Linked DNA regions of Homo sapiens: all the other regions are linked to region 1. Evidence: fine-mapped expression QTL. A gene starts in region 1. Each other region holds a variant in brackets. All regions are shown on one strand. Distances are between the middles of the regions. Region 1 holds the start of COL9A2 (collagen type IX alpha 2 chain). Region 2 has its middle 23 kb from the start of COL9A2. Region 3 overlaps SMAP2 (small ArfGAP2). Region 4 has its middle 8.4 kb from the start of SMAP2.

Evidence for each region.
Region 2: its variant is fine-mapped to the expression of COL9A2 in whole blood (TOPMed, PIP above 0.99).
Region 3: its variant is fine-mapped to the expression of COL9A2 in activated CD8 T cells (Schmiedel 2018, PIP 0.95).
Region 4: its variant is fine-mapped to the expression of COL9A2 in whole blood (TOPMed, PIP above 0.99).

The regions. Positions count from the first base shown.
Region 1 is chr1:40,313,527-40,321,632 of GRCh38, reverse strand. It overlaps COL9A2 (collagen type IX alpha 2 chain), which reads left to right and starts at 4,347. Exons shown (of 32, transcript NM_001852.4): 1 at 4,347-4,510; 2 at 5,969-6,043; 3 at 7,246-7,281; 4 at 7,366-7,428. The coding sequence starts at 4,436. RefSeq lists enhancers at 4,216-4,852, 4,853-5,489, 6,273-6,532 and silencers at 4,663-5,172, 5,933-6,032, 6,043-6,102.
Region 2 is chr1:40,335,950-40,344,055 of GRCh38, reverse strand. No RefSeq gene overlaps it. Among named protein-coding and RNA genes, the nearest start is that of COL9A2, 23 kb to the right of the region's middle. The variant T/C (reference allele first, on the strand shown) is at 3,954.
Region 3 is chr1:40,400,384-40,408,489 of GRCh38, reverse strand. It overlaps SMAP2 (small ArfGAP2), which reads right to left. Exons shown (of 10, transcript NM_022733.3): 2 at 1,621-1,754. Among named protein-coding and RNA genes, the nearest start is that of SMAP2, 31 kb to the right of the region's middle. The variant G/A (reference allele first, on the strand shown) is at 3,617.
Region 4 is chr1:40,361,251-40,369,356 of GRCh38, reverse strand. It overlaps a transcript of SMAP2 not described here. Among named protein-coding and RNA genes, the nearest start is that of SMAP2, 8.4 kb to the left of the region's middle. The variant G/A (reference allele first, on the strand shown) is at 3,648.

The sequences.
Region 1 (8,106 bases):
GGTTCAAGTGATCCTTCCACCTCAGCCTCCCAAGTAGCTGGGAGACACCACTACACCCTGCTAATTTTTTTTTTTTTTTTTGTAGAGAAAGGGGTCTCACTGTGTTGCCCCAGCTGGTCTTGAACTCCTAGCCTCAAGTGATTCTCCTGCCTGAGCTTTCAAGAGTACTGAGATTACAGGTATGAGCCACCACACCTGGCCAACATGGAGTTTTCTTATACAGAAATGTAGATATATGACTCTCCACTTATTCAGGGTCTCCCTGTGCTTTAAGAGTCCTATGCAAGAAGTACCTACTGAGGAGGCTGAAGTGGGAGGATCACTTGAGCCTTGGAGGTCAAGGCTGCAGTGAGCTAAGATTGTGCCACTGCACTCCAGCCTGTTTCCAAAAACAAACAAACACCCATATGCAATTGGCTGGAACCTCCAGTCCATGTCTTGTGGTCCAAAGCCTTCCCTAAAATTTATATATATATATATATATATATATATATATATATATATATATAATTTTTTTTTTTTTTTTTTTTAGACAGAGTTTCACTCTTGTTGCCCAGGCTGGAGTGCAGTGGCGTGCTTTCAGCTCACCGCTACCTCCACCTCCCAGGTTCAAGCTATTCTCCTGCCTCAGCCTTCCTGAGTAGCTGGGATTACAGGCATGCACCACCATGCCCGGCTAATTTTGTATTTTTAGTAGAGATGGGGTTTCTCCATATTAGTCAGGCTGGTCTCAAACTCCCGACCTCAGATGATCTGCCTGCCTCGGCCTCCTAAAGTGCTGGGATTACAGGCGTGAGCCACCTTGCCTGGCCTAAAATTTATCTTGATTGGCTCCAGCTTTAAGCTTCAGCTACCACTGGATTGGTTCAGTTTATAACCCCAAGTGTGGCAGGATGTATTTTCCAAAGATGGTTGCATCAATAATAAAAATTGCATCCCCAGGCTGGGTGCAGTGGCCCACACCTGTAATCCCAGCACTTTGGGAGTCCAAGGCAGAAGGATTGTTTGAGCCCAGGAGTTCAAGACAACCTGGGAAACATGACAAGACCCTGTGTCTACAAAATATAAAAAATTAGCTGGGTGCATGGCTGGGTGCAGTCGCTCACGCCTGTAATCCTAGCACTTTGGGAGGCCGAGGTGGGCAGATCACTTGAGGTCAGGAGTTGGAGACCAGCCTGGCCAATGTGGTGAAACCCTGTCTCTACTAAAAATACAAAAATTAGCCAGGCATGGTGGCAGGCGCCTGTAATCCCAGCTACTCGGGAGGCTGAGGTAAGAGAATTGCTTGAACCCGGGAGATGGAGGTTGCAGTGAGCCGAGATCACACCACTGCACTCCAGCCTGGGCAACAGAGCAAGACTCTGTCTCAAAGTAAAATAAAATAAAATAAAAAATTAGCTGGGTGCAGCGGTGCATGCCTGTAGTCCCAGCTACTCAGGAGGCTGAAGTGGGAGGATCAGGAGCCCAGGAACTTGAGGCTACAGTGAGTGGTGATTCCTCCATTGCACTTCAGCCTAGGTGACAGAGGGAGACCTTGTCTCAAAAGTAAGAAAGAAAGAAAGACATAAATAAATAAATTTTATCCCTTATTCTCTTCTTAAAATGTGACACTGGCTGGGCGCGGTGGCTCATGCCTGTAATCCCAGCACTTTGGGAAGACAAAGCGGGCAGATCACGAGGCGGGCGGATCATGAGGTCAGGAGTTCGAGACCAGCCTGACCAACATGATGAAACCTCATCTCTACTAAAAAGACAAAAATTAGCCGGGAGTGGTGGCGTACGCCTGTAATCCCAGCTACTCCAGAGGTTGGGGCAGGAGAATCGTTTGAATCCAGGAGGCGGAGGTTGCAGTGAGCTGAGATTGCGCCACTGCACTCCAGCCTGGGTGACAGGGCAAGACTCCATCTCAAAAAAAAAATTAAAAAATGTGACATTAACATTCATCCTTGAGGTGGGGTCTCTGTTCCCTCCCCTTGATCATGGGCAGACCTTTGCAATTGCCTCAACAGTAAGAATGTGGTGAAGGTGCCACTGCATGACTTCCAAGGACGGGTCCTGAGTGGCAATTCTCTTCAGTCTGGTGCTCTCCTACTCCCTCTGAGCTGCTATAGAGGATGTTCAGCTACCTTGAAGCTGCCATGTTGGAGAAACTTCATGGAAAGCCCACAAAGAGATAAAGGAGAGAACTGTCCAAGCAACTCCAGCTGTTCCGGCCCCAGCGGTTGAAGGCTTCCCAGTACTGACATCAGACATGTGAGTGAAGAAGCCTTCTAGGTGACATCAGGCCCAGCCACCATCTGACTATGACCTTATAACAGACCCCAGGCCAGACCGAACCAGCAGAGTCACTCTCAAATTCCTAATCCAAAGAAATTGTCATTTTAAGCTGCTGAATGTTAGGGTGATTTGTTATGGTGCAACAGGTAATTAATACATCAATGTGTGCTGTCCAGACTGTGAAACTCATCCTCTTTCCATAATTTCCACACACAAAAAGAAAACTTACTCACACAAGGCCTTTCTTGTGGTTAGCCCACAAAAGATGGAGAGATAAGTGATGTGAAACAAACAACTTAAAATTGAATTTGGACATCCCAGTTCTAAAAATCCTTTATAGGTTTACCCCACCCACCCCAAGCAATGCCCACCATCCCTCTCTTACATCCTCCTCCTCTTGCTCTCATCTTCCAACAAACTTCAAATTCTTCTTCACTCTGTTAGGCAGAGCAATTACATTCTCTCAAGCTCTTTCTCCCAAACTCAGCTCCAGGACAACCTTTCAAAATCCAGAGCCCTTTGCTAACCTGCCCAATGGAGTTGGACTTTTCTAGCTTCAACTAGGTTCATCATTTTAGCTGATCTGCCTGTGGCCAGCTTCCCCACATTGGATGCCAACCTAGTAAAACAGTCATCCATAAATCATAAGGAAAGCTAAAATGTATCAAGCACCTACTATGTGCTGGTTCGAGGTTAAATGCCTCGCATGAGTCATCTCATTCAATTTCCACAAAAACCCTTTAAGATAAGGACAATTTGCTGGGCACGGTGGCTCATGCCTGTAATCCCAACACTTTGGGAGGCTGAGGCAGGCAGATCACCTGAAGTCAGGAGTTCAAGAGCAGTCTGGCCAACATGGCGAAACCCCATCTCTACTAAAAATATAAAAATTAGCCAGGCATTGTGGCTCATGCCTGTAATTCCAGCTACTCGAGAGGCTGAGGCAGGGGAATCATTTGAACCCGCGAGGCGAGGTTGCAGTTAGCTGACATCGTGCCACTGCACTCCAGAGCCTTTTAAGACTCTGTCTTAAAAAAAAAATATATATATATATATATATGGACTATTAGTATCCCCATTTTACAGATGAGGAAAATGAGACTTCATAGAGTTTGGGGTGCCTGTGGTCATATCTATAATTGTGAAAAAGTCAGATTCCAAAGCATTTTACCAATATTGCCTAAGTGAGTGGGAGGGAAGGGAAGGCTCTCTGGAGTCGGGCTATGCTGGACAGCGGGGTTCGGAAACTCTGGTGAATAAAGTGGTAGTTGTTTCTATGAACATGGAGTGAGAAGGCCCAATCCTAAACACACCAGTGCTTAAGGCAGCTGCAGAGAATTAAAGGCAATAGAAAAAGGGGAGCTGGATGGCAGGAGCTTGGATGGGGAAGACTTCAAGGGCAGGTGAAGATGCCAACAGCTTCCTGCCTGGAGGACCGAAGAAGGGTTGGGCTTCACTGCAGACCTCCAGGAGACAGATTTGCTTGTTGGGACAGAGTAGGGAGGTGAAAGCGAGGTGAGGAAGTTCGGGGGTGGGGGAGGTGCACACAGCTCCACTAAAGAGCTGGAAGAGGCCGATGGAGTATTCATGAGACGGCTGATCCAGGAAGGACTGTGGCATATTAATATGGAAAAGGCCTGTTTGTTTGTGCTTGGAGAGGAAGGAGCCAGAGGAGAGGGGAGCAAGGTGGGCGGGAGCTGGGGAGAGCCTGCAGCAAGATCTGCAGAGCCCGAGGTGCTCTCGGCCTGGGCCCTGGAGAGGACGTAGGGTAAGTGATGGGGCACAGGCTGTGCGTCAGGGGGAAGGTGCTGGGGCCTGAAGGTCCCGAGGGGAACCTCAGACGGCCTTATGCCTTCTCACAAAGAAACTGGACCATCATCTCCGACCCGCACCCCGGTCGCCCCTCGAGGACAGAGGGTGGGCGCAGGAGGCTGGACCGAGCGGGGCGGAGCTGGATGCCTGGCGCCGGCCTCCCTCCCGGCAACCCCGCCGGTCCTCTCAGGTGACAGCTCACGCCGGCCCCCGCCCCGCCCCCCGCATATTCAGGAGCCCCAGCCCACCCTGCCCGCGAACAGCCAGCGCTGGAGGAGCGCCGGGAGACTCTGCCGTCGGTGCGTGCGCGGACACGCACCCGTCCCCCTTGGTCTCGCCGCCAGCCATGGCCGCCGCTACGGCCTCCCCCCGCAGCCTCCTTGTTCTCCTCCAGGTGGTAGTGCTCGCTCTGGCGCAGATTGTAAGTTTCGCAGCCCCTCCGCTGCCAGGGTCCAGGGTGCGGGGTCTGGAGTCCGGGATGGAGGAGCTCTGCCTGTGTCCCGCGCCTACTGACACCCCTAGCCCGAGAGGCCACCTGAGGACAGCGCCGCGGGCAGGTCCCCTCGGTGGGTGCATACATGGTGCCCATCGCGGCACCGTGAATGGAGGTGGCTGAGCCGGAGAGTCAAACGGGACCCGTCCCCAGACGCGCGGCCCGGCCCGGGACAGGCAGCGTGGGGCAGGAGCTGGCGCCCGGTCCTGGCAGCCCGGGGAGCCCAGGTGGCGGGGCATACAATGGTGCTCATTCACCCGCTGCGCAGCCTCCGCCCCCGCCGCCTCCCAGGGGGCGCCGGCTCCAACCAGACGCCGCTGTCGCCCCGAGGCGGCCTCTCGGCCCTGCCCGCCTACCCACGTCTCCCTTCCGAGGGCCGCCGGGGGCTGCGGGCGCGCGGGTAGGGCAGAGACTGGGCCCGGTCGGGTGCTGGGTGTGGTTTCGAGCTCGCCTGCGGGGCGCCAGCCTGGCACTTCGCGGCCTGGGGAGGTCGTGGGCACCGGGACCCCTGCCTGGGTCCGAGCTGGCCTCTTAAAAGGGCCGCCTTTTAAGATCTCTGATCTGTTCAGAGATGGGCAGCAGGATGGAGACTCTCCAGCTGTGAGCTCGCCTCATCTTGATATGACTTGTGACCTCCCTGAAACCTCACACCCACCCAGGGGCATTGAATTGCAGGCAAACGGGATCCAGAGAGAGGGTCTGCTTTCTGGGAGGTGCCGGCTCCTCCTGCTCCCCTGCAGCAGTCAGGGCTTAGCAGAGGGAGGACCGGGCAGCTGTGCTGCCGAAGGGGCGCTCCGAGTGGGAAGATAGTACCCGCTTCACCTCCCTACACCTCCTTTCTCTGCGCCTCCCCCACTTTCCCGTCGGGTTTTCCCGCACCATGGGGAGAGGAGGAGGCGCTGTCTCTGCCTGTCGTTCACGTAAGAACAACAACCCGAGCCACCGCTCACTGAGGGCCGGCAGCCTGCTAGGCACAACCTTACATTCCATCTGTGATTTATTTGAGCTGTCCACGTCTCCATCTATTCCCCACCGCGACCGCGCAAGGGCAAACTGGCACAGTGGAAGGAGTCGGGCAGATCCAGGGCGGACTCCTGGCGCCGCCGCCCACTCTCAGTGACCATGGACCCTTCACGTTCTGAGCCAGTTTCTTCGACTGCAAACTGGGGCCCGTAATAGCGCCCGCCTCCCGGTTCTGAGTATTCTGTAAGATAATGAATGCATGTAATGGCACACAGTGCCTGCTATACAGAAGATTCTCAATACGTGGGAGTTCGCGGAAGAGCTGCGCCCCTAGGACCCCGCTCCCAGGGTCGCTTGCAGCCCCGGGGACGCCCAGCTTCCTGCACTGTCTGAGGACTGCCCCACCCCGTGTGTGTTTTTCAGAGAGGTCCACCGGGAGAGCGGGGCCCCCCGGGTCCCCCGGGACCGCCGGGAGTGCCTGGATCCGACGGCATCGACGTAAGTCTCTAACCTGAGACCAGGGCGGGAGGGAGGCGGCAGACAAAGGAGAACTTTGTGAGCGCTGTGGTGGGGGTGGGGACTTCGGGGTGCCCGGAGATGTAGTGCCCCTCGTCGCCAATAGGCGGCGCCGGCCCGCACCACAAGGACGCCGTTTGTTCTGCAAAAACCTCAAACCAGCCCTGACATGCGGAGCCCGTTATAGCCGCCGACAGACAAGGAGCTGCTGTTCAGTCCGCCGGCCGCAGCTCACAGCGAGGCCTCATCCCCCTCCTCTCCTTTCCCCTCCTTGTGGGGTAGGAGGCGACTCAACCCCTCACCCTGCCTCTGGCACATCTGGACGCTTCTTCAGGTTCGCTTGGGAGCCTTGGCCAGACCACCGACCAGCTTGGGCCAGACTCCTGTCTCTTCCCTTCGGTTTTCTCTCCCCGATTTAGAATCAGCTGGGCTTGTTCCCTGCAGGGTGAGGGTTAAATACCTCATTCTGAAAGCTCCCGCAGGAGGGCCGCTTGATGTTTACCAGTCTGGACAGACTTCTATTCAACCTGGTGCCCCCACCCCCCAAACACAGGATGCTGGGCCCCCGGCCAGGCCCTGGCTGCTGAGGGCTCTGAAATGCCTGGAGGCCTCTCTGGGGCTGAATCGCACTCTACCGGCCCTGCCTGCCCACCACCAAGGGTCCTTTGGCACTGGAAGGAGGTCCTTCCCTCCTTGGGAACACTGAATTTCCCCCTTGCAGTCCCCCTTGGTCCTTGCCACTGGCTCAGCTTCCCGTTCTCCTGCCCTGCAGTCTGGAATAGAGCTGCTGCCCAACTCGCTCATCCCCCTTCACGTTTCTCTAAAAGCCCCAACCTTCCTCCCACACGTGCCCAAATCCAAGAGGCATCAGCTTGGAGCCCCCAGCCCTGGTAGTGGGTCTCACAGCTGGCACCTCATGACATCAGCATGTCTGTACCTTCTTGCATGTTGCTGTCACCCTCTCCAGCCCGGCCAGGGTTATTCTCATGCTCCTGTGATTTGTTTTTGGTTTTTATTTTTGAGGAAAAGGGGGCTCTTTTCCCAAAGATTGCAAGGCTTAGGGGACCTGGACAGAAGAGAGGAGAGTGAGGAGAGCCTTTGGGAGCGGCCTGCCAGGGCCTGTGTGTGCCCACTTGGGGTAGTGTGAGCCGTAGTGTGCTGTCTCACCAACTTGTATCTTGCAGGGTGACAATGGGCCCCCTGGAAAAGCTGGCCCTCCGGTGAGTGCTTTATCCTCTTTGGCCTTTGACCCTTCCTGCTCTTGCCCTCCTCTGGCTCATGTTTGTTCCATCTCTGTTTTCAAGGGACCCAAGGGCGAGCCTGGCAAAGCTGGGCCAGATGGGCCAGACGGGAAGCCCGGGATTGATGTGAGTAGCTGAGTGTCGGGTGGGGCAGGGTAGGGCTCTGCCAATTGACCTCCAGGGCCTGGCTCTGGCATCTTCACTGATCTGTTCAGAGATGGGCAGCAGGATGGAGATTCTCCAGCTGTGAGCCCCCCTCACCTTGATATGACTTGTGACCTTCCTGGAACCTCACTCTCACCCAGGGTCATTGATTTGCAGGCAACCGGGGTCCAGAGAGAGGGTCTGCTTTCTGGGAGGTGCAGGTTCCTCCTGCTACCCCTCAGCAGTCAGGACTTAGTCTCACATTTCTGGCCTCCAAGGATCAGGCTGAATATGTTGGGTGGGGCTGTCCTTGTGTGCCCTGTCCTTTCCTCCGCTCTTCCCCTGACCCCTACCCACAGCCCCAGGCATGACTCAGGAGAGAAACATCATTTAGCTGATACCACAGAGCTCCCAGGGGGCCCCCAAGGTCACAGGCTCTTGAACACAGCCAGCCCCAGGGGCATGAGGACAACATCTGATGGGGGTTACACTGGGTCAGTCACTGAAAGATGGGAGAAAGGAGAAACCCCCATGACTTGCCTCTGCCCTGCTGGCTCATGAGGTGTGACCAGGGCTGGGACAGTCACCAGGACCCCTTCAAACTCATCCACACCCTGCAACGATTACAAGGCATATTGCCTTCTATGTTGCATCAGTTCT
Region 2 (8,106 bases), 22 kb before region 1:
AGAGGGGTGTGGTGGGGGGGGGGGGCAGAAATATGACCCCCCAAAGATGACCACATACGAATCCCTGGAACCTATGGATATGCTACTTTACATGGCAAAGGAGATTTTGCAGGTGTTGTTAAGAATTTTGAGATGAGGTGTTTATCCTGGATTAACTAGATGGGCCCAATGTAATCACAAAGGTCCTTTAAAGTGGAAGGTAGGGACAGAAGAGAGAGGCAAAGGAGATTTTACTGTGGAAGAGTGGTCAAGGAGATGTCACATTGCTAACTTTGAAGATGGAGGAAGGGAGCCACAAGCCAAGGAATGCAGAAAGCCTCTAGAAAAGAGAAAAGGAAAGGAAATAGACTCTTCCCTAGAGCCTCAGGAAAGGGGTGCAGCCCTGCTCACGTCTTGATTTTAGCCCCGTGTCATTCGGACTTCTTACCTACTGAGCTAGAAGTAACAAATTTGTATTGTGTTTTTTTTGTTTGTTTGTTTGGTTGGGGTTTTTTTGTTTTGTTTTTTGTTTTTTTTTGAGACGGAGTCTCGCTCTATTACCAGGCTGGAGTGCAGTGGCGTGATCTCGGCTCACTGCAACCTCCGCCTCCCGGGTTCAAGCGATTCTCCTGCTTCAGCCTCCCAAGTAGCTGGGATTACAGGCACCCACCACCATGCCCAGCTAATTTTTGTATATTTAGTAGAGACGAGGTTTCAACATGTTGGCCAGGATGGTCTCGATCTCTTGACCTTGTGATCCACCTGCCTTGGCCTCCCAAAGTGCCGGGATTACAGGTGTGAGCCACCATTCCTGGCCAGAAATTTGTATTGTTTTAAGCCACTACATTTGTGGTAATTTCTTACAGGAGTAACAGAAAACGAATACAGATTATGTTACTGCTGTAACAAATACCTAAACATGTAGAAGTGGTTTTGGAACTGAACTTTGGGAGGAGGCAGGAAAAACACTGAGGAGCATGATGGGAAAAGCCTGTATGGCCTTGATCAGACTGCTGGGAGAAATGTGAATGCTAACAGCTTGGACAGTGAGGACTCTGGAATCAGTAATGAGCAGAGTCAAGAAAATATCAACCAATTTAGAGAACATGAACGGACTTGGAAGAAATATGGCTGTTAAAGGTGCTATGGGTGACGGCTGAGAAAGAAATGGGGAATATGTTAGGGGAAACTGGAGGAAAGAGGATCCTTGGTACATAGTGACAAAAAGCTTATCCAGTTCCTTGAAGTTATATGAAACACAGAATTTATAAACAATGAACTTGAGGCCGGGCAAGGTGGCTCATGCCTGTAATCCCAGCACTTTGGGAGGCTGAGGCGGGTGGATCACCTGAGGTCAGGAGCTCAAGACTAGCCTGGCCAACATGGAGAAACCCCATCTCTACTAAAAATACAAAATTAGCTAGGCGTGGTGGCAGGAACCTGTAGTTCCAGCTACTAGAGAGGCTAAGGCAGGAGAGTTGCTTGAACCCCAGAGGTGGAGGTTGCAGTGAGCCGAGATCGTGCCACTGCACTCCAACCTGGGTGACAGAGTGGGGCCCTGTCTCAAAAAGAAAACAACAACAACAAAAAAACAATGAAATTGGGTAGTTAGCTAAGGAGATTTCCAGGCAGTGTTGAAGGGTGTGGTCTGGTTTCTTCTTGCTGCTTACAGTAAAATGTGAGAGGAAACAGATAATTTGAGAGAAATGTTTAACAAAAAATGAAACAGAACTTGATGATTGGGGGAATTCTCAGCCTATTCAGATGCAAAAGACGTTAAAATGATGAAATTCACTGTCAGGAAAGTGTGCTTTAGAGAAAAAGCCAAGAACGTGGCTGGACAACCTTTTGCTAATACCTCAGAAAGATCAAAAGGTCAGAGTATCAGGCCTGTAATCCCAGCACTTTAGGAGGTTGAGAAGGGAGGATCGCTGGAGCCCAGGAGCTCAAGGTCAGCTTGAGGAAACATAGGGAGACCTCATTTCTACAGATAACAACAACAACAACAACAACAACAACAAAAATTAGCTGGGTAGGTGGTGCTTGCCTGTAGTCTCAGCTATTTGGGAGACTGAGGTGGGAGGATTGTTTGAGCCTGGAGAGTCAAGGCTGCAGTGAACTGTGGTTGCACCACTGAATTCCAGCCTGGGCAATAGAGCAAGACACTGTCAAAAAAAAAAAAAAGTTCAGAGTATTCTGTCACATAAGAGGTTTTTTGAAGAGATTAAGTGTGAGACTCATATATCCCCTCAGCTACCTCAACAGAAGACAGAAATAGAAACGGGCTTATCAAGCGAAGATCTGCAAAGGAGCATTTTGTCTAATGGAGTGACATACATGAGAGATCCACGGGGTTCTTGAGAATTTTATACCAGCAGAAACACTTGAGCTTGGACTGTACAGGATAGAGAGGGTATGAAATGAAAGAAGGCTATAAGATCCCCCAAATTCTACAGGCAGGAAACAAGTTGATAAAACCACCCAGCTGCAGCCATGTGCTGAACCTTTCATGAAAAAGGAAGAATGACTAAGAGGACAGAGCTGTGATCCCAGAGGGCAGAGCTTTGAGCTGCAAAGTATTATTTCCAGGCTTTGAAACCTAATGGAGTTTGTCTAACTTAATTTTGAAATTGCTTGGGACTAGTGACTCCTCTATTTCTTCCTTTCTCTCTTTTTACATGGGAATGTCTATTAGTGTTATCCTATGCTAGACCCAGTATCGTATTTTGGAAGCAGAAGCTTATTTTCTAGTTTCACACGTCCACAGGTGGAGAGAAACTTTGCCCCAGGATAGATTATGCTGAGTCTCATCCAAAACCTAATTTAGATAATATCCATGATAAATCTGAAACTCTTGAGCTAATGAGATTTAAATGAGACTTTGAACTTTGAGTTGATACTTTAATGGGCTGAGATTTTTAGGGACCTTGGAATAAGGTGAATGCATTTTGTTCGTGAGACAGGTATGAATACTGGGGCCAGAGAATGGTCTGTGGTAGGCAGAATAATGATCTACCAAAGATGCCTCCAGAACCTGTGAATCTGTTACATTACATGGCAAAAAGGGACTTTGAAGAATTGATTAAATTAAGGATTATGAGACAGGGAGATTATCCTACATTACCTAATAGGCCCAATATAATCACAAGGTCCTTAAAAGTGGAAAGGGGGCCGGGCGTGGTGGCTCATGCCTGTAGTCCCAGCACTTTGGGAGGCTGACGCAGGCAGATCACTTGAGGTCAGGAGTTCAAGACCAGCTTGGCCAACACGGTGAAACCCCGTCTCTACTAAAAATACAAAATTATCCAGACGTGGTGGCAAGCACCTGTAATCCCAGCTACTCAGGAGGCTGAGGCAGGGGAATCACTTGAACCTGGGAGGCGGAGGTTGCAGTGAGGCGAGATCACACCATTGTACTTCAGCCTGGGCAACAAGAGTGAAACTCCATCAAAAAAAAAAAAAAAAGTGGAAGGGGAAGACAGAAGAGAGAAGCACAGGGAGATTTTACTATAGTATGGTCAGTAAGATGTAACTTTGTTGGTTTTGAAGATGGAGGAAGGGGAAACCAAGAAATGTGGGAAGCCTCTAGAAGGTGGGAAAGGCTGGGCAATGAGTTATCTCCTTGAGCCTCCAGAAAGGAACACAGAGGAAAAACAATGGAGCAAAACTGGAAGCAAGGAGTTAAAATAAGAGGCAGTTGCAATACCCCCAAGCAAAAGAGGATGGTATGCTGAATAAGGTAGGTGCAGTGGGGATGGAGAGAGGTGGATGGATTAAACACCTATGAGGTATAGTCACTGGGACAAGGCGATAATATTTCTCGGGGAGGAGAGAGGGAAGTCTCTTCTCCAGGATGACATCCATAGTTTTGGCTTATGCAATAGGGCAGAGGGTGGGACCACTGGCTGTGTAGGCCACACAGGAAGAGGAACAGGTTTGTGGGCAAGAAGATAATTTCATTTGGGACATGTCAG[T/C]TTGGTGGTGCCTGTGGAACATCTGAGAAGCAGTTGGATAAGCAGGTCTGAGACTCAGGAAAACATATAGGCAGCAGTTAAAGTCAACCCGATGGATAAGATGGCCCAGGAAGAGTATAAAGAATAAGAAGATAGGACAGGACCTTGTAGAGTGCTAAGTAAGGGTGTGCAGAGAAAAGAAATCTGCAAGGGGCCTGAGAAAGAACAGCTGGAGAGGTAGGAGGAAAGCCAGGAGAGTGTAGTTCATGTAAGCGGACACTAAAGCTTATCAGTGTTGGACCAGCACTGGGAAGGAATCAGATGGAACAAGTGGGAGGTCAGATGAAACCAGGGTCAGGATTGGCAATTCTGAGGAGTTTGGAGTTGCTCTGTTCTAGCTGGAGAGAGAAGCACCTGTGGGAAGCTGATGGTTGGTATTTTCTGCCAGGCATAAGAGGGCAGCCAGAGGCCAGGTGAGCAAACCTGTTTAGCACTCTGGCTCAGCCCAGAATGGGCAGCTGTTTCCAGGAAGGGGTTCTAGGTCGTCTCACTGTGCTGTAATTAAGAGACTCAGCCCCTGCCCCAACTTGCTCCACGGGACTGACCAGCTGTGTTTGCTCTTCTCTAGCAGGGAAGGGGGATCATCTGTCACCTACTCTGTTTTCTGAACATTCATCCCACTCCCTGCCTTTCTTACAAAGTTCCTTCTGCCAATTAACCGGGTGTGGTGGCGGGCGCCTGTATTCCCAGCTACTTGGGAGGCTGAGGCAGAAGAATCGCTTGAAACCGGAAGGCAGAGGTTGCAGTGAGCAGACATTGCGACACTGCACTCCAGCCTGGGCGAAAGAGCGAAACTACATCTCAAACAAACAAAACGAAGTTCCCTTCTGCCGAAAACAAATATCCAAAGCGTTCTGGGCACTGTGCTAAGTACTTCATGGTCATCAAGAGACACTATTCTCCCCATCTCACAAATGAGGAAACTGAGGCTTAAAGAGATGAAATGACTTGCCCAAGGTCACAGTCAGTATGTGGTAGAACCAGGATCCAAGTCTAGCTGAATCCAAATTCTAAGTTCTAACTCCCCAGAAACCACGACTGCTCCCTCGCTGGGTTCCCACAGTGCTTTATCTGCCTCTATGCCCGTTTCATCTCGCTAGCAGCTCCTGGAGAAAGGGGCTTTTAATTCGTCTTGTCAAGCTGTCATCATGGTGTGCTGCCGCAGAGGACCACTAGGTGCCGCCAGAGCACCAGCCAGCCTGATTTACTGCTCACCTGGAGTCGGTCTAAAGGAGCAACTGGTGGGGAAGGGAGCTGGGCCTTTTCTTCCTGCCCTGCAGCCCACCTCTCCTTCCTATCGGAGGTGGGAAGAAACGACTGGAAGATTGGAAGGTTAGAAATTAGAGATTTGGCCGGGCGTCGTGGCTCACGCCGGTAATCCCAACACTTTGGGAGGCAGAGGCAGGTGGATCACATGAGGCCTGGAGTTCGAGATCAGCCTGGCCAACAGGGTGAAACCCCGTCTCTACTAAAAATACAAAAATTAGCCGGGCGTGGTGGTGCACATCTATAATCCCAGCTGCTCAGGAGGCTGAGGCAGGAGCTGAGGTTTGAACCCACGAGGCAGAGGTTGCACTGAGTCGAGATGGCGCCACTGCACCCCAGCCTGGGCAACAGTCAGAGCTGGTCTCAAAAAATAAATAAATAAATAAATAAATTTAGAGATCTGAGGAGTGTAAACTGGAGCAGCCCAGGGCTCAAGTCAAACAGAAGATCCTAAGAGTTCTCTAAGAAAGCTAGAACCAGCAAAATAAAATATTGCGGCAAACATCTCCAGGCTGGGTCTCAGCCCCACTCCTCTGTCCTCCCTTTTTGTGCAGATCCTAAAATGCACAACCCTATGCTGTGGCTGTAGTGGAAAGTGGGGAAAATGTATGTTACTGAGACCTATCCAGAGCTAGAAACTGTGGGAAAACAGGTGTGTGTCCTTGGGGAAATCACTTCACACCTCTAAGCTTCAGTCTTCTTGTAAATAAAATGAGGATAGGCCCAGCACAGTGGCTCACGCCTGTAATCCCAGCACTTTGGGAGGCCAAGGTGGGAGGATCGCTTGAGCCCAGGAGTTCAAGACCAGCCTGGACAACATAGTGAGACCTCTTCTCTATTAAAAATAAATAAATAAATAAAATGAGGATAATCAAGGGACCTACCTCGTTGAGCGGTTGTGAGGAGTTAAAGACAAAATGCATGTACCACACTGATACAATATCTGTCATATAGCAAGTGCTTAATAAATATTGTTATAAACACAATAATTATGATAATATAAATATTTAAATGATAAGCATTATTGTTGTATTTGTCAGGATTCTCCAGAGAAACAGAACCAATAGGATATATATAGATAACGTAAGAGGAAATTTATTACGGGCGTTGGCTCATGCGATTACAAAGGCCAAGAAGTCCAATGATAAACTGTCTGCAAGCTGAGAACCAGGAAAGCCGGTAGCGTAATTTAGTCCCCAGTGGAAGGCCTGAGAGTGGGGTTGGGGAGGGAAACCGGTTCAAGAACCAGGAGCTCCGATGTCCAAGGGGAGGAGAAAATAGATGTCCCAGCTCAAGGACAGAGAGAATTCACCCTTCCTCTGCCTTTTTATTCAAGCCCTCAATGGACTGGATGCTGCCCACTCACATAGATGAAGGTGGATCTTCTTTGCTCTCAGTCTACTGATTCAAACGTTAACTCTTCCAGAAACACCCTCAAAGGCACACCCAGAAATAATGTTCTACCAGCTAATATCCCTTAGTCCAGTCAAGATGACACGTAAAATCAGTACACAAAATTAACAGTCACTGCTGGGCGTGGTGGCTCACGCCTGTAATCCCAAAACTTTGGGAGGCTGAGGCGGGAGGATCACCTGAGTTCAGGAGTTCGAGACCAGCCTGGCCAACATGGTGAAACCCTGTCTCTATGAAAAATACAAAAAAATTAGCCAGGCATGGTGGCGGGTGCCTGTAATTCCAGCTACTCTGGAGGCTGTGGCAGGAGAATTGCTTGAACCCAGGAGGCAGAGGTTGCAGTGAGCCGAGATCACACCACTGCACTCCAGCCTGGGCAACAGAGTGAGACTCCATCTCAAAAAACATTATAAGCAAATCAAAGAAAATTGAGGACTACCAGATTATAATTTCTGACCCATTATCTTTCACCCAACTTGGTCTTGAACAACTAGTAGCTATTTCTCAAATCCAATCCACCTTCAAGGTTTAACAAACAAATAAAAATATGTTCACACACCTTCAAAATAATCTGATAGAAGTTCTGAAGATAGGCTGGGTGAGGTTCACACTTGTAATCCCAGCACTTTGGGAGGCCGAGGCAGGCAGATCACGAGGTCAGAGGATCCAGATCATCCTGGCTAACAGGATGAAACTCCATCACTACTAAAAATACAAAAAATTAGCTGGGCTTGGTGGCACACAGCTGTAGTCCCAGATACTCGGGAGGCTGAGGCAGGAGAATCGCTTGAACCCGGGAGGCAGAGGTTGCAGTGAGCCGAGATCGTGCCATTGCACTCCAGCCTGGGCAACAAAAGCAAGACACCGTCTCAAAAAAAAAAAATTAATGATCACCATTAATAATAAGTGGTAGTTCTCGGCCGGGCGCAGTGGCTCACGCTTCTAATCCCAACACTTTGGGAGGCCGAGGCGGGTGGATCACCTGAGATCAGGAGTTCAAGACCAGCCTGGCCAACATGGTGAAACCCCATCTCTACTAAAAATACAAAAATTATCCAGGCGTAGTGGTGCAGGCCTGTAGTCCCAGCTACTTGGGAAGCTAAGGCAGAGAATCGCTTGAACCCAGGAGACCGAGGTTGCAGTGAGCTGAGATCGTGCCATTGCCCTCCAGCCTGGGCAACAGAGTGAGATTTGGTTCCAAATAATGAAAATAATAATAATAATAATAATAATAATAATAATAATAATAAATGGTAGTTCTTAGCTGCTGCCTTCATGATGACATCATTTAATTATCTTCTCACACTACAGGCCTGACACATAACGTCCTCAACAAATATTTGTAGGATAAAAAAATAAAAATAGTTTTCACTCATGTTCTCTGTGTTAATCCAGCTTGTTGATCCTGGAGAGACTTTCTGGATGTGGTGTCTTT
Region 3 (8,106 bases), 87 kb before region 1:
CCTTACTAGGATTTCCCAATCATTTGCCCCAAGCTGTCTTTCCCCCACTCCATAGGTTCCTTTTACTGAAATATTTGTGTACCAAGATACATTCAATTCAGTAATAAATCAAGATCTCATTTGAAACTCTTAGATACACAGCTACCAATTAAAATGTCTACTTGGCAGGCAATGATCAGTGTTATCATTCTGAGTTTATACTATTAATCAATTCCAATAAATGTGTTTCCCATTAGGCTTTTAAGTAGACTCCTTAACACTTGTGAGGGATAAATCCCAAGAGCTTTTTAAATCTCCAAATTCCCGACTATCTCCATGGCATATAATTTCCTTCATAAAACAGAGTGAAGTGTAACTGAAAAATGTAACTCACCTTTTTAGACCTTTAATACATCTATAAATACAATCTAAAGCAATTTCTAAAGCCATTTTCTGGTTAAGCGTAACCTCTGATTTCCATTACCAACTTTAGCAACTGGATTTGGGGGGCGGGGGGCTTCCCTTTTACTCCCAAGAAAGAAAAAATTGAAATTAAAGCGTTTCAATGTAGGAAGAGAATAAAAAATAATGAAGCTATATCAAGGTACAGCTCTTAGGCCAGCCAGACTCATTAACTTAGGAGTCTCACTCCAAGCCCACCAAGCTAACAGCATGCAAGATTCATGTATGCATTCCAGCTGTTACAGCTTTTTAAAGATGATAACAATAAATCTAATATACACATTGTCCTATTTAATATACTTTTAAGGTTAATTATGTTTAAATTTATTTAAAATTTTTGAAATTTTAAATGTTATCTAATTCCACATTTGTATGTGTCTAAAAATATCAGAAATGATGAGTTTACAAAAATGGATACATTTTAATATTATGTACCATTAAAATATTTTCTCTGTCTTAAAAAAAAGATTCATGTATGCATTTTAGTAATAAAATTTTCCCATAAGTCTATGATTTGGAGGTTTTTTTAAAAAGTGAATTTTTATTTATTTATTTTTTTGAGACAGGGTCTCACTCTATTGCTCAGGCTAGAGTGCAATGGCATGATCATGACTAACCGCAGCTTCAACTTCTGGGCTCAAGCAATCCTCCCACCTCAGCTTCCCAAACTGCTGGGATTACAGGTACGTACCACCAGGCCCAGCTAATTTTTTAATTCTTTATTTTGTAGAGACAGGTGTCTCACTCTGTTGCCCAGGCTGGTCTTGAACTCCTAGACTCAAGAGATCCACCCACCTCGGCCTTACAAAGTGCTGGGATTACAGGCATGAGCCACCGTGCCCGACCAAAAGTGAATATTTGAAACTATAAATTTTAGACCTGCAAATGCTAAGAGTCTTAGAAAATCACCCAAAGATCCCTCTTAATACTTTCGTGGGCCCATGGAATCCTAGACCGTAGACTATTTCTGTTTTTAAGGAGGTAAAATATAGGTAGAATAACTTGTATCTTAAATAGAAAGAATAAAAATTTCTGTTAGGGTACAAGAATCTGATGTTAAGTGTTTAACAACTAAATTTTCCTTTATCTTCACCTTTGTGCCAGGTTTGACTGAAATTCATCTGGAATTCCTTTTACATAGATATATGGAAGCAGCTGACTCACTCTTGGGCTAAGTACCTGAATCTGTTCTTGAGTCCACTGGTCGAGGTTAACTGACTTTACCCTGGATATGTGCACCCCCAGATTCCTGTGGATTCCAGCACATCGAATGCAGATGAACACACCAATGTTCCAAGAGGCCCATCGCGGCCCTGTGAAAGTCAGGAACAGGGCAATAAAGTACAAATTACAACATTCAAGGCCTAAACTACAATATTAGATTATCAGACATTTCTGCTAGAACATAAGTGAAATAATTTTTACCATAACCACCTGTTTATTGACTCTGCTCATTCCTCCATGTGTCAGCTTTTCTTTAGTTTAAATTTAAGTGTACAATACAGTGGTTTTTAATATATTCACACAGTTGTGCAATGATTACTACTATCTAATTCCAGAACATTTTCATTAGTCCAAAAGAAATCACAAACCCATTAGCAGGCACTACCCATTTTCTCCCAGCTCTTCCTCCCAGCCCCTGGCAACTATGAATCTACTTTTTATCTCTATGGATTGCCAATTCTGGGCATTTAATATAAAAAGAATTATATAATAAGTGGGCATTTGTGCATGGTACAATTTTTTTACAGTGTCTGCTAATATGAGTGTTGAAACGCAGATGTTATAAGACTGTTACTTATATTAAGAAAAATCCCAGGAGTGCAAAGCCATGTCATATTCTATTTGGCCGAGCACCTTACATAAACAGTCCTCTCCCAAGAGACGTTTTAGTGGTGATGGGCCTGTATTCACCACTTTTTAGTGGTGGCCTGTATTCGGTTTTCCTACCAGGAAAAAAGATAGATATGGCATGCTTGTCCATGGCTCAACCTGTAATTGAAACTGTGTTTATCTTCCCCCCAACCCCAGGCCTATAAAATATGCATTCGCATTAACTTAATAGGATCTTTTCCCCTTAGGCTGATGTTCCTACTTTACTCAACTACTGAAGTATCTTGTTTCAAGATTGCCAAATAATAAAGATGCTTATAGCAACAAAAAAGAAATCTCAAATATGAATTTTAATTCAAAACTGTTACAGAATCTCCCATCCCCTGCCAGTGTTACTCATCCTAATAATCACTCTGAAAAATTATCATACTCCTCTTCATAATTTTTACCCAGGAAAGAAAAATGACTTATATGAAACCTGCCAAAAACTTACTAAAAAATCAGAAATACTTCCTTCTCCATTATCCCACTTGGCAGAAATTTACCACATAAAATAAGTGTGATATAAAAATTAGAGGATGCAATAAAGAGGTGAAAAGACACTGATTTTCTACAGAGATAAACAGGGCCTACGCTTGGAACGACAACGAGCACAAGACTTCAGTTCTTTAGGACACAGACAATTATTTGGTTAGCTAGCAGGTTTTTAATTTTTTAATTTTTATTTTTAGAGGCAGTCTCGCTGTCACCCGGACAGGGAGTGCTGTGGCACGATCATAGCTCACTGCAGCCTCGTCTTCCTGGGCTCAAGCGATCCTCCTGCCTCAGCCTCTGGAGTAGCTGGGACTATAGGCGTGTGCCACCCTGCCTGGCTAATATTTTTATTTACTGTAGAGACTAGGTCTCACTATGTTGCCCAGGCTGGTCTTGAACTCCTGTCCTCAAACAATTCTCCCACTTTGGCCTCCCGAAGTGCTGGGATTACAGGTGTGAGCCATTGTGCCTGGCCAGCCTGAAGGTTTTGACAGCAGTTTTAATGAAGGAATGCTAGAATTGTGTGGCAGAAAATTAGTTTTAGAAATTTGAATTCATGATTATTACAAATAAGAATGTAATTTTTTGACAAAGATATCACTTATTTACTATCGCAAATACTGCAACAGAAGGCTCACATTCTCCTTATTACCACCAGGTGGTGCTCTCCGCCTGAAATTTTATCCCAATACCTTATTGCTATCACAAGCTCCGATTTACCTTCTAAAAAGATATTTAGTCCCTTCACATTCCTAGATGGATTTACATAGTTGGTCCGCCATGTATCTAATAAACACAAAAATGATTC[G/A]CACACTTGTTTCATGTGGGAGAGTGTCACGTCAAACACAAAATGAAAACCCTAAACTGATGTAAATGGGGTTTCTTAACATGTGGTATATCCATTTTAGGTTACAGTTTTCATAAAGGAACTCCAATAAGATCTAAGTTATATAAGATTTAAAATGGCACCAAGTTAATATTTCATGTTTCTTAAAGCACTTTTCCTTTGCTCTAGATTCCAGAGTCTAGAACTCATAAGACAAGTTAAGATGTATTTGTTTGCTAACAAAGTCAGAAGCCAAACACATTCATTAAAAATTAAAAGTCAGCTGTGAAATGTTACACTGTTTGCTTCCTGGCCTTAAGATGGGAAAAGGCAATTCCCAATCATCTAAGCCACTGTCACAGCTCCCACTCCAGCGTACTTAAAGTCTTTTTGCTTCTGAGGAATGCAAGGCTAAGACTTGGAGCCTTGGGGTGACTCTGAAGCCACTGACAAGGCCTCAGTACAGAAATACAGGCAACTGTATTTTCATGAAAAGCCAAAGAACAGCCTCTTCTCCCCACCAAATCCCTACCTGACATCCCTTGTGAAACCTTTTCCCAGTGAATATAGTGATAGTTATATCCCAGATACTCAATCTCTTTTAGTTTTGAGCCACTAGATTTATTAGTGAATAACTACATGTTCCATAAAATATTCTGAAATTAGAGAAAAGAAAAATAAAAGAGACAAATGTTACTTATATGGCTGAAAACATGGGGAAATGGTGTAGTTACTTTTATTTCATTTTATTCTTTACAGACAGGGTCTCTCACTCTGTTGCCCAGGCTGGAATGCAGAGGCAAGATCATGGTTCACTGTAACCTCAAACTCCTCGCCTCAAGCGATTCTCCCACCTCAGCCTCCCATGTAGCTGGGACTACAGGCATGCAACACCATGCCCAGCTAATTTTTTAATTTTTTTAAAGACAAGGTCTCCCTATGTTGCTTAGGCTGGTTGTGAACTCCTGGCCTCAAGGAATCCTCTCGCCTCAGCCTCCCAAAGCACTGGGATTACAGGTGGGAGCAACCACACTCTGCCAGTTGTAGGACTTAGGTTTGAGCACAGCTCCTTCAGTGATTACCTGTGTGACCTTCTGAGAGATACTTACATTTCCTGAGCCTTAGTTTCCTCATCTATAAAACGTGTACAATAGCATTCACCTCACAGTGCCCTAGAACACAGAGGGACAATAACTGAGGACTATATATAAGGATGTGGTATAGAATAAGGTTTCCAGAACCCACTTCCCATCCATCTTCCTGATAAGGGCCAGTTAACTCATTCATATATGTAATATATACCAACACTCTATGCAACACCACGGAGTGCTTCTTTTTATTTTATTTTTTTGAGACAGAGTCTCGCTCTGTCGTCCAGGCTGGAGTGCAGCGGCGTGATTTTGGCTCACTGCAACCTCCGTCTCCTAGGTGCAAGCAACTCTCGTGCCTCAGCTTCCCGAGTAGCTGGGACTATAGGCGCGTGCTACCACACCCCACTAATTTTTGTATTTTAGTAGAGACGGGGTTTCGCCTTGTTGGCCAGGCTGGTCTCAAACTCCAGACCTCTGGTGATGTACCCGCCTTGGCCTCTCAAAGGCCTGGGATTACAGGCGTGAGCCACCGCGCTCAGCCAGAGTGCTTCTTTTTTAAAAAGGAATATGAGTTCTGGTCCTAAAATATCAGAACCAAAATGAACTGAATACAGAGAGAAGAAATTTACCCTAGACCCAATTTCAAAGTCTTCTAGGCAACATGAAAATTTAAGCAGCTTCCTTTATTTCTCTTAAAATATTTCTTGAAAATGCACTTTTTAAACCCTCACCTGTTCCCTTTCTCTGCTACACACCCCCACCCTGCCCTTGTGCTTGCATATGCCCCCACTACACAGGCAAAGAAAGAAGGCCCAAGGCTGTCAACCTAAGTGGTGGGTACTTGGATTCCACAGTACCTGGTATTGCTGCTATAAGGCCAGCCTACTTTAATCTGGTAAACTTGCAAAAATGCAAGTGAAACCAATTGTTTCACTTAACATAATGACCTCCAATTCCATCCATGTTGCTGCAAATGTTAGTGAGTTAAAAAATAGTGGATCTCATGAAGAGAGAGTAAATCGGTGTTCTAGAAGCCAGGAAGGGTAGGCGGATGGAGGAAGAAATGAGGTTGATTAATGGGTACAAAAATACAGTTAGTCAGCCTGGCCAACACGGTGAAACCCCATCTCTACTAAAAATACAAAAAATTAGCCAGGCATGGTGGCACGTGCCTGTAATCCCAGCTACTGGGGAGGCTGAGGCAGGAGAATTGCTTGAATCCAGGAGTCAGAGGTTGCAATGAGCCGAGATCACACCACTGCACTCCAGCCTAGATGACAGCGAGACCTTGTCTCAAAAAAAAAACAAAAATACAAAAATACAGTTAGAAGAAATAAGATCTAGTGTTCAATAAATCAGTACAGTGACTATAGTAAATAATAATCTACCATATATCTCAAAATAGGTAGAAGAGAATAATTCAAATATTCCCAGCATAAAGAAAAGATAAATGTCTAAGGTGACGGATATAGCATTATCATGATTTGGTTATTACACATTATGTGAATGTATCAAAATATCACTTGTACCCTGAAAACATGTACATCTATTATGTATCAATAAAAAGAGATAAACCAATTGTTTAATACACATTGGTCATGGCAATCAAGGAAAAAAATATAAAAGATGCCATTTTGAAATTTAAAATGAAAAGAAATGCTGAGAGGCAATATGCCAAACAATTTTGAAAGCAAAGAGGATAGACAAGTGATGTAAACTGGTAGTGATCGGCACAACACAAGAACAAGGTCACACATAAGTGCACATATTCAACAGGAGCCTAAGAGCAGGCGTGGGCAGCATCAAGCAATACTAAAACTAACATAGAATCACTCTGCAATAAGGGATCAGGGAAAATGAAAAAAGTAGATGGAGATGGATTTGGTTGATCAGTCAAGAAATCAACTGTCCTAAGTACCAGTTCAGTATCGGAAAAATCTGGGTTTACACGGACCTGTTGCATGTATTTTGACAAGTTTCTCTAGGGCTTATGTCTCCATTTGTAAAATGAAAAGCATATACGTAATATCCAACTTATATTCAACATCTGGACAGCTTCTACATACGGAGTAACTACTGCTGCAAATTCCTCTTGCTGCTGAAACTTCCCCCACCACCAAAGCTGCCAGGATTAGAGGGGCTCTGGGATTGACAACTCAGCAGACAGAAAAGGGGAACTAGCGTGATGGAGGACTTCAAGCTACTACTAATATTATAATAATTATATCATTGAGTTCTAATCTATGGAGTTCCAAACAAATAAATATTGAGGAGGAAAAAACATTGATAAATTGATGGCTACCTATATTTAGACCTGCTGGCATAACGGACCTGTCAAAAAGTTCAACGGGCAGGCTACGCGAAGGGAGAGAACTTTCCCATCTTCCATCCAAATCCTGTGGAATCTATCTTGGAAACTTTTCCAGAATCTATCCATTTCTACCTAGACCTCATGTCTCACCTATAAGCATTCGTTCTTTTTTGTGTGTGTTTGTTTGTTTTGAGACGGAATCTCGCTCTGTCACCCAGGCTGGAGTGCAGTGGCGCGATCTCGGCTCACTGCAAGTTCCGCCTCCCGAGTTCACGCCATTCTCCTGCCTCAGCCTCCCGAGTAGCTGAGACTACAGGCGCCCGCGATCACGCCCGGCTAATTTTGTTTTTGTATTTTTAGTAGAGACGGGGTTTCACCTTGGTAGCCAGGATGGTCTCGATCTCCTGACCTAGTGATCCGCCCTTCTCGGCCTCCCAGAGTGCTGGGATTACAGGTGTGAGCCACCGCGCCCAACCAGCATTGGTTCTCTTAACATTATTTATTGTGTACCTATGTGCCAAGCAATTTGCCTGCTAAGTACTGGGGATACAAAGGCAGAGAAAATAAGGATGAGATTCCTCAATTCAAAAAGCTCACAGACTAACAAGCAATTAGTCTCCAGAATCCCACCACCAGAATAATCTTTCTAAAACACAAATCTGTACAGATCACACCTCTAAATATAAACCTTCCATGTAGTCTCATACACAAAGGTAAATATGTAAATTGGTGCACATTTTCTGAATAGCATATTCCAAACTAAGCTCTCAATCTCTTGCTACAAAATCTCTTCCTTTTTTCTTCATCTTAGTCAACTACACCTCCATCCATTCCATTGCGTCAGTCAGAAAATTATGCATCATGAAACCTCTCTCCTTCAGCCCCCACATCACCAAGACAAAAATATCTGTCAAATCAGTATCTCTTCTCTCCATCTGTATCACTATTTCTGTAATCTAAAGCCACCAGACTCTTTCGGACCACTGCAATAACCTCCTAATAGCTCTCTCTCCACTTTTACATTCTCTTCTCCCTTGAGCCCAAACCAAAACCATTCTCCACCAAACAGC
Region 4 (8,106 bases), 48 kb before region 1:
AAGTAGTTTTTTCCAATTCTGTGAAGAAAGTCATTGGTAGCTTGATGGGGATGGCATTGAATCTGTAAATTACCTTGGGCAGTATGGCCATTTTCACAATATTGATTCTTCCTACCCATGAGCATGGAATGTTCTTCCATTTGTTTGTATCCTCTTTTATTTCCTTGAGCAGTGGTTTGTAGTTCTCCTTGAAGAGGTCCTTCACATCCCTTGTAAGTTGGATTCCTAGGTATTTTATTCTCTTTGAAGCAATTGTGAATGGGAGTTCACTCATGATTTGGCTCTCTGTTTGTCTGTTGTTGGTGTATAAGAATGCTTGTGATTTTTGTACATTGATTTTGTATCCTGAGACTTTGCTGAAGTTGCTTATCAGCTTAAGGAGATTTTGGGCTGAGACAATGGGGTTTTCTAGATATACAATCATGTCATCTGCAAACAGGGACAATTTGACTTCCTCTTTTCCTAATTGAATACCCTTTATTTCCTTCTCCTGCCTAATTGCCCTGGCCAGAACTTCCAACACTATGTTGAATAGGAGTGGTGAGAGAGGGCATCCCTGTCTTGTGCCAGTTTTCAAAGGGAATGCTTCCAGTTTTTGCCCATTCAGTATGATATTGGCTATGGGTTTGTCATAGATAGCTCTTATTATTTTGAAATACGTCCCATCAATACCTAATTTATTGAGAGTTTTTAGCATGAAGGGTTGTTGAATTTTGTCAAAGGCTTTTTCTGCATCTATTGAGATAATCATGTGGTTTTTGTCTTTGGTTCTGTTTATATGCTGGATTACATTTATTGATTTGCGTATATTGAACCAGCCTTGCATCCCAGGGATGAAGCCCACTTGATCATGGTGGATAAGCTTTTTGATGTGCTGCTGGATTCGGTTTGCCAGTATTTTATTGAGGATTTTTGCATCAATGTTCATCAAGGATATTGGTCTAAAATTCTCTTTTTTTGTTGTGTCTCTGCCCGGCTTTGGTATCAGAATGATGCTGGCCTCATAAAATGAGTTAGGGAGGATTCCCTCTTTTTCTATTGATTGGAATAGTTTCAGAAGGAATGGTACCAGTTCCTCCTTGTACCTCTGGTAGAATTCGGCTGTGAATCCATCTAGTCCTGGACTCTTTTTGGTTGGTAAGCTATTGATTATTGCCACAATTTCAGCTCCTGTTATTGGTCTATTAAGAGATTCAACTTCTTCCTGGTTTAGTCTTGGGAGAGTGTATGTGTCGAGGAATTTATCCATTTCTTCTAGATTTTCTAGTTTATTTGCGTAGAGGTGTTTGTAGTATTCTCTGATGGTAGTTTGTATTTCTGTGGGATCGGTGGTGCTATCCCCTTTATCATTTTTTATTGTGTCTATTTGATTCTTCTCTCTTTTTTTCTTTATTAGTCTTGCTAGCGGTCTATCAATTTTGTTGATCCTTTCAAAAAACCAGCTCCTGGATTCACTGATTTTTTGAAGGGTTTTTTGTGTCTCTATTTTCTTCAGTTCTGCTCTGATTTTAGTTATTTCTTGCCTTCTGCTAGCTTTTGAATGTGTTTGCTCTTGCTTTCTAGTTCTTTTAATTGTGATGTTAGGGTGTCAATTTTGGATCTTTCCTGCTTTCTCTTGTGGGCATTTAGTGCTAAAAATTTCCCTCTACACACTGCTTTGAATGCATCCCAGAGATTCTGGTATGTTGTGTCTTTGTTCTCGTTGGTTTCAAAGAACATCTTTATTTCTGCCTTCATTTCGTTATGTACCCAGTAGTCATTCAGGAGCAGGTTGTTCAGTTTCCATGTAGTTGAGCGGCTTTGAGTGAGATTCTTAATCCTGAGTTCTAGTTTGATTGCACTGTGGTCTGAGAGATAGTTTGTTATAATTTCTGTTCTTTTACATTTGCTGAGGAGAGCTTTACTTCCAAGTATGTGGTCAATTTTGGAATAGGTGTGGTGTGGTGCTGAAAAAAATGTATATTCTGTTGATTTGGGGTGGAGAGTTCTGTAGATGTCTATTAGGTCCGCTTGGTGCAGAGCTGAGTTCAATTCCTGGGTATCCTTGTTGACTTTCTGTCTCGTTGATCTGTCTAATGTTGACAGTGGGGTGTTAAAGTCTCCCATTATTATTGTGTGGGAGTCTAAGTCTCTTTGTAGGTCACTCAGGACTTGCTTTATGAATCTGGGTGCTCCTGTATTGGGTGCATATATATTTAGGATAGTTAGCTCTTCTTGTTGAATTGATCCCTTTACCATTATGTAATGGCCTTCTTTGTCTCTTTTGATCTTTGTTGGTTTAAAGTCTGTTTTATCAGAGACTAGGATTGCAACCCCTGCCTTTTTTTGTTTTCCATTTGCTTGGTAGATCTTCCTCCATCCTTTTATTTTGAGCCTATGTGTGTCTCTGCACGTGAGATGGGTTTCCTGAATACAGCACACTGATGGGTCTTGACTCTTTATCCAATTTGCCAGTCTGTGTCTTTTAATTGGAGCATTTAGTCCATTTACATTTAAAGTTAATATTGTTATGTGTGAATTTGATCCTGTCATTATGATGTTAGCTGGTGATTTTGCTCGTTAGTTGATGCAGTTTCTTCCTAGTCTCGATGGTCTTTACATTTTGGCATGATTTTGCAGTGGCTGGTACGGGTTGTTCCTTTCCATGTTTAGCGCTTCCTTCAGGAGCTCTTTTAGGGCAGGTCTGGTGGTGACAAAATCTCTCAGCATTTGCTTGTCTGTAAAGTATTTTATTTCTCCTTCACTTATGAAGCTTAGCTTGGCTGGATATGAAATTCTGGGTTGAAAATTCTTTTCTTTAAGAATGTTGAATATTGGCCCCCACTCTCTTCTGGCTTGTAGGGTTTCTGCTGAGAGATCCGCTGTTAGTCTGATGGGCTTCCCTTTGAGGGTAACCCGACCTTTCTCTCTGGCTGCCCTTAACATTTTTTCCTTCATTTCAACTTTGGTGAATCTGACAATTATGTGTCTTGGAGTTGCTCTTCTCGAGGAGTATCTTTGTGGCGTTCTCTGTATTTCCTGAATCTGAACGTTGGCCTGCCTTGCTAAATTGGGGAAGTTCTCCTGGATAATATCCTGCAGAGTGTTTTCCAACTTGGTTCCATTCTCCCCATCACTTTCAGGTACACCAATCAGATGTAGATTTGGTCTTTTCACATAGTCCCATATTTCTTGGAGGCTTTGCTCATTTCTTTTTACTCTTCTTTCTCTAAACTTCCCTTCTCGCTTCATTTCATTCATTTCATCTTCCATTGCTGACACCCTTTCTTCCAGTTGATCGCATCGGCTCCTGAGGCTTCTGCATTCTTCACGTAGTTCTCGAGCCTTGGTTTTCAGCTCCATCAGCTCCTTTAAGCACTTCTCTGTATTGGTTATTCTAGTTATACATTCTTCTAAATTTTTTTCAAAGTTTTCAACTTCTTTGCCTTTGGTTTGAATGTCCTCCCGTAGCTCAGAGTAATTTGATCGTCTGAAGCCTTCTTCTCTCAGCTCGTCAAAGTCATTCTCCATCCAGCTTTGTTCTGTTGCTGGTGAGGAGCTGCGTTCCTTTGGAGGAGGAGAGGCGCTCTGATTTTTGGAGCTTCCAGTTTTTCTGTTCTGTTTTTTCCCCATCTTTGTGGTTTTATCTACTTTTGGTCTGTGATGAT[G/A]GTGATGTACAGATGGGTTTTTGGTGTGGATGTCCTTTCTGTTTGTTAGTTTTCCTTCTAACAGACAGGACCCTCAGCTGCAGGTCTCAGATGGAAATGCAGAAATCACCGGTCTTCTGCGTCGGTCACGCTGGGAGCTGTAGACCGGAGCTGTTCCTATTCGGCCATCTTGGCTCCTCCCCGAATGTATCCAGTTATAGAATTTTCTATCTGTCCCAGTGGCCACTGAGCATAGTTTGGTTGCACTGTATCTAATGGATTTCAGAAAATTGGAATGAATTGAAGAATCCTGATACCACATTTCATACTCAGCTTCCAGATAATTTCTCTTTATTGTTTTTATTTTGTTTTGTTTTGCTTTGGTGGCAGTAGAATTTATTAGAATGTGCCTTTTAAAAATTATTTGAAATAGAGATGGAGTCTTGCTTTGTTGCTCAGGATGGTCTTGAATTCATAGCCTAAAATGATCCTCACACCTTGGCCTCCCAAAGTGCTGAGGTTACAGGCATGAGCCTAGAATGTGGCTTAATACAGGCACGTGGGCTTGCCCACGGTGCTCTCAGTATATAAAGCTTGAATGTCTTGGCAATTTTTCTTGAGTAATGACACTAGGAAGTTGACAGCCAGGTGAATGTTATGTACAAGCTCATCGTCTGTCATCTTCACATGGCCAACAGCCACAGCCAGACATAGCACCTTCTTCATCTGAAACTGGGTTGTGGACTTCACCTCATCCACTTTGGCCACCATGTTTTTGTTGTGTGTCAGCAGGGGAGGGAACTTACCCACCTTATTTAGGCCTGGGCCAAGGATTCATGGGATCTGCTTGATCAGAGACTCTGAGGCTAAAAAGACATTATACTTTTTGACAGCTGTTTGACCGATTATTATTCTTATTGAGCTTTTCAGCACCTTGATGTCCCTGTGGAGGATATCCACAGCCTTGAGCCATTTTTTTTTTTTTTGGAGACAGGGTCTCACTTTGTCATCCAGGCTGGAGTGCAGAGGCTCGAACATAGCTCACTGCAACCTCGACTTCCCAGGCTCAAGCAGTCCTCCCACCTCAGCCTCCTGAGTAGCTGGGACTACAGGCGTACATCACCATGTCCAGCTAATTTTGTGTATTTTTTGTAGAGACAGGGTTTCACCATGTTGCCCAGGTTGGTCCTGAGCTCCTGGAATCAAGCGATCCTCCTGCCTTGGCCTCCCAAAGTGCTGGGATTACAGGCATGAATCACTGTGCCTGGCCCATCTTATTTTTCTTTAATAAATTATTTTCTGTTTGTAGAAATAGGATCTGGCTATGTTGCCCAGGCTGTCTCAAACTCCTGGCCTCAAACAATCCTCTCCACTCAGCCTCTCAAAGTGCTGGGATTACAGGTGTGAGCCACCTTGCTTGCCCTCTTTTTTTTCTTTAAATCAGAGTATTTTGAAACCCCAACTCACATAAATAAGGACAAAATAAAAACCACTATACTAGAGAAGCCACAGTAATAAAATGCCCAGATTACTACCAAGAAAGAGGTATGGTGAACATTTTTGGACTATTGCCACAGGAAACTCTCATTAGTGTATCTTATAGCTAAGAGATCAAAATCTCTTAAGCCATATGTTAATCAGTTTCTGATTCACTGGCCAGTCACTTTACCTATACCAGATAACACTCATAGAATGACCTGTTCATTTAGAAAGCTGGATAATTATGCTCCCTGTTTTACTATGAGCTCAGTGTTATTTGTCACATGCAAATGAGCTTGGTGAGACTAAGCTTAGTGAGCTTCGTGATTCCCCTCTGGCTACAGCTGGTCTAAATGCTGCCTCTGGGGGCACCAGCTGAGTTCTGCCCAGGGTTGCTTTCCACTGTGACAAGGCAGCACTGAGTTCTAATGTAAAGTCCCACAATCACTGCACTCTCCTTCCCCCAAGCACACCAGTTCTCTCTCTGATCCACACGGCTGCTGGTGGGGAAGGGGTTAGTGGCATCAGCAATTCAAGACTGTCTTTTGTACTCTCTTCAGTGTCTCTTTCTGTAATATGAAGTTAAAACCAGGTACTGTGATTACTCACTGTATTTTTGGTTCATATGAAGGTGATTTTTTGTGTGGATAGTTGTTCAATTTGGTGTTCCTGTGGGGAGGACAATTGGTGAGGTCTTCTATTTTTGGCCATCTTGCTCTGCCTTCCTAGATATTAGATTTTTTTTTTTAAGTTTTAAATCAAAGTAAAAACATGCACATAGTTTTAAAAGTCAAGTAATTATACAAGGCTTATAATGACAAACAGTAATCCTCTGCCCCATCTCTGCCCACACTGGTCCCTACTCCTCTGAGACAACCATTTTCAACTCTTATAGTTGTTTCTTCTACAATTTATGTATTGCCCAAATAACATGTTTCTATCACCATGATTTACCTTCCCAGCTTTGCTTATTCACTTCCTGCTATGGAAGATGAAGATTTAGATTTCTTTATATATACTCCCCCAGACTTCCTTTCCCACATTTTCCTAGTATAGTTAAATGACAATATTTTGTTAAATTAATGCTCAATATTTATAATATTATGACTTAATATTATTGACAGTTGTGCTTTGTATTCATTGATTGCATTTTTTTCCTGGTTAAACTTTTTGTTTTTCCTGGAGTCAATAATTGCTCCACTTTGGAGTGCTTAATTTTCTATGAACCTATGATTAATTCATCTCCTAATACTCTGACAGAAGAGAATTTCCTCTTAGTGAGTTCTAACACATCAGCTAAGCTATAAATTTCATTATTCTTGGCGCTGTCCATCCTGAAGCTTCTGCCCTGCTGCTCCAAGCTGGAGGAGGCCTGCTGCTATGTAATCATCACCCTGGAATTCCCCTTCACTATCATCCTGGGAATAGCCTTCCTCTTTTTCCTGTGTTGAATGCTCTATTTTCTGGATTTGGTGCTTACGAGGGACAGAGCAAGTATAACTGACCAAGGCCTACTCCAAGAACTCTGTAGTGTAATGATAGGAAATTGCCCCACACCAGAGCATATCAATGTGAAATGGCAGAACACTGGGGGAAAAGGCAAGATCTGAAGTTTCCAGAGAGGAAAAACAAATCACATGAAAAAGAATCAGGAATGAGAATAGCATGGAGTTCTCAACAGTAGCACTGGAAGCCAGGAGACAATGAAACTTTGCCTCCAAAATTCTGAGAAAAAAAAGAGTTGCCAACCCAGAATTCTGTACCACCCAAACTACTATTCTAGAGGCAGTGTTGAATAAAGACAGTTTCACATACCATAGATTTCAAAATCTTGCCTCCTGCGCTGGCTGTGTTCCATTGGCTTCCACATCCTCTCTCAGCCCTTCAACTGGCTCTGAGGTCTAAGAGACAACTTTGATAGATGGCATCAACCTGGCTTCTCTGCACACCAGCTTTTGGTTGTGTTCAACCAATGGGAAGAACAGTGGGAAATCAGAGGGCAAGAGGAGAGAGAAGTCGAGTTATTTATTTTCTCTGCTTTCTCCCTACTGGCAGAGCTACTGCCCCCCTCCAGTGACAGTCAAAGTGTCTGCGACAGTGGCCCTCTTGACTGTGATGGTGGCCCTCTCCTACAGCGAGGGCTCACATCACATTCTGGTCATACTCTCTCCCCTGGCCTCTTCAGGCTTTGAGGGCAACAGCCATCTGCACTTGCTCGCCCCAAGATACATCATGCCCTTGGTTGATTTTCTTTCACCCTTCCCACACTTTACAAAATGGTCCCTTCTTTAAACGCTCCTCACTGGCCTCTTTTGCATTGGCCACAGGCTTCCTATTGGAATCCTAACCAGTTTATCTCCCATGCACACTTTGTCAAAAATGACAGCACAATCAAGCCGGGAGTCAGAAGCCTTAGGAATCAACCTGTTGCTCTATTCTATAGCAGCTGAGCTGGCACCCAAGCCACAAGACAAAGTCCTTCCCCCTCTTCCTTTCCCTTTGCTCAAGCAGAGGAGTCTCTCCCTGTGGCCACCAGTGCCCCAGGCCCACGGAAAGTACTCCCTGGCTTCTGCTGATGTTCATTCAAAGCCTAAGGGCTCTTTGGTCAGCTTGTGGTGAATGCTGCGAGGTGTGGGACTCTCCCTTCAGGGCAGTGGGCTCCCCTCTGGCCCAGGGAAGGTCCAGAAATGCCATCTAAGAGCTAAGGTCTGGAATTGGGGACCTCAAGGGCCCACTTGGTCAATCTGGTACCTAAGCTGCAGGACAAAGTTCCCTTTACTCTTCCTTCTCCTTTTTCAAGCAGAAGGAGTCCATTCCTGCAGCCACCACAGCTGGGAATGTGCTGGGTCACACATTAAGCCAGCACATCTCTGAGTCTCACCCAAGGCCCATGGTGAGTCCTGCCTGGGTACTGCTGCTGATCATTCGGGGCCCAAGTGCTCTTGAGTGAACAAGTGAAGAATCCTGCCAGGACTGGGTTCTTCCCTTCAAGGCAGTGGGT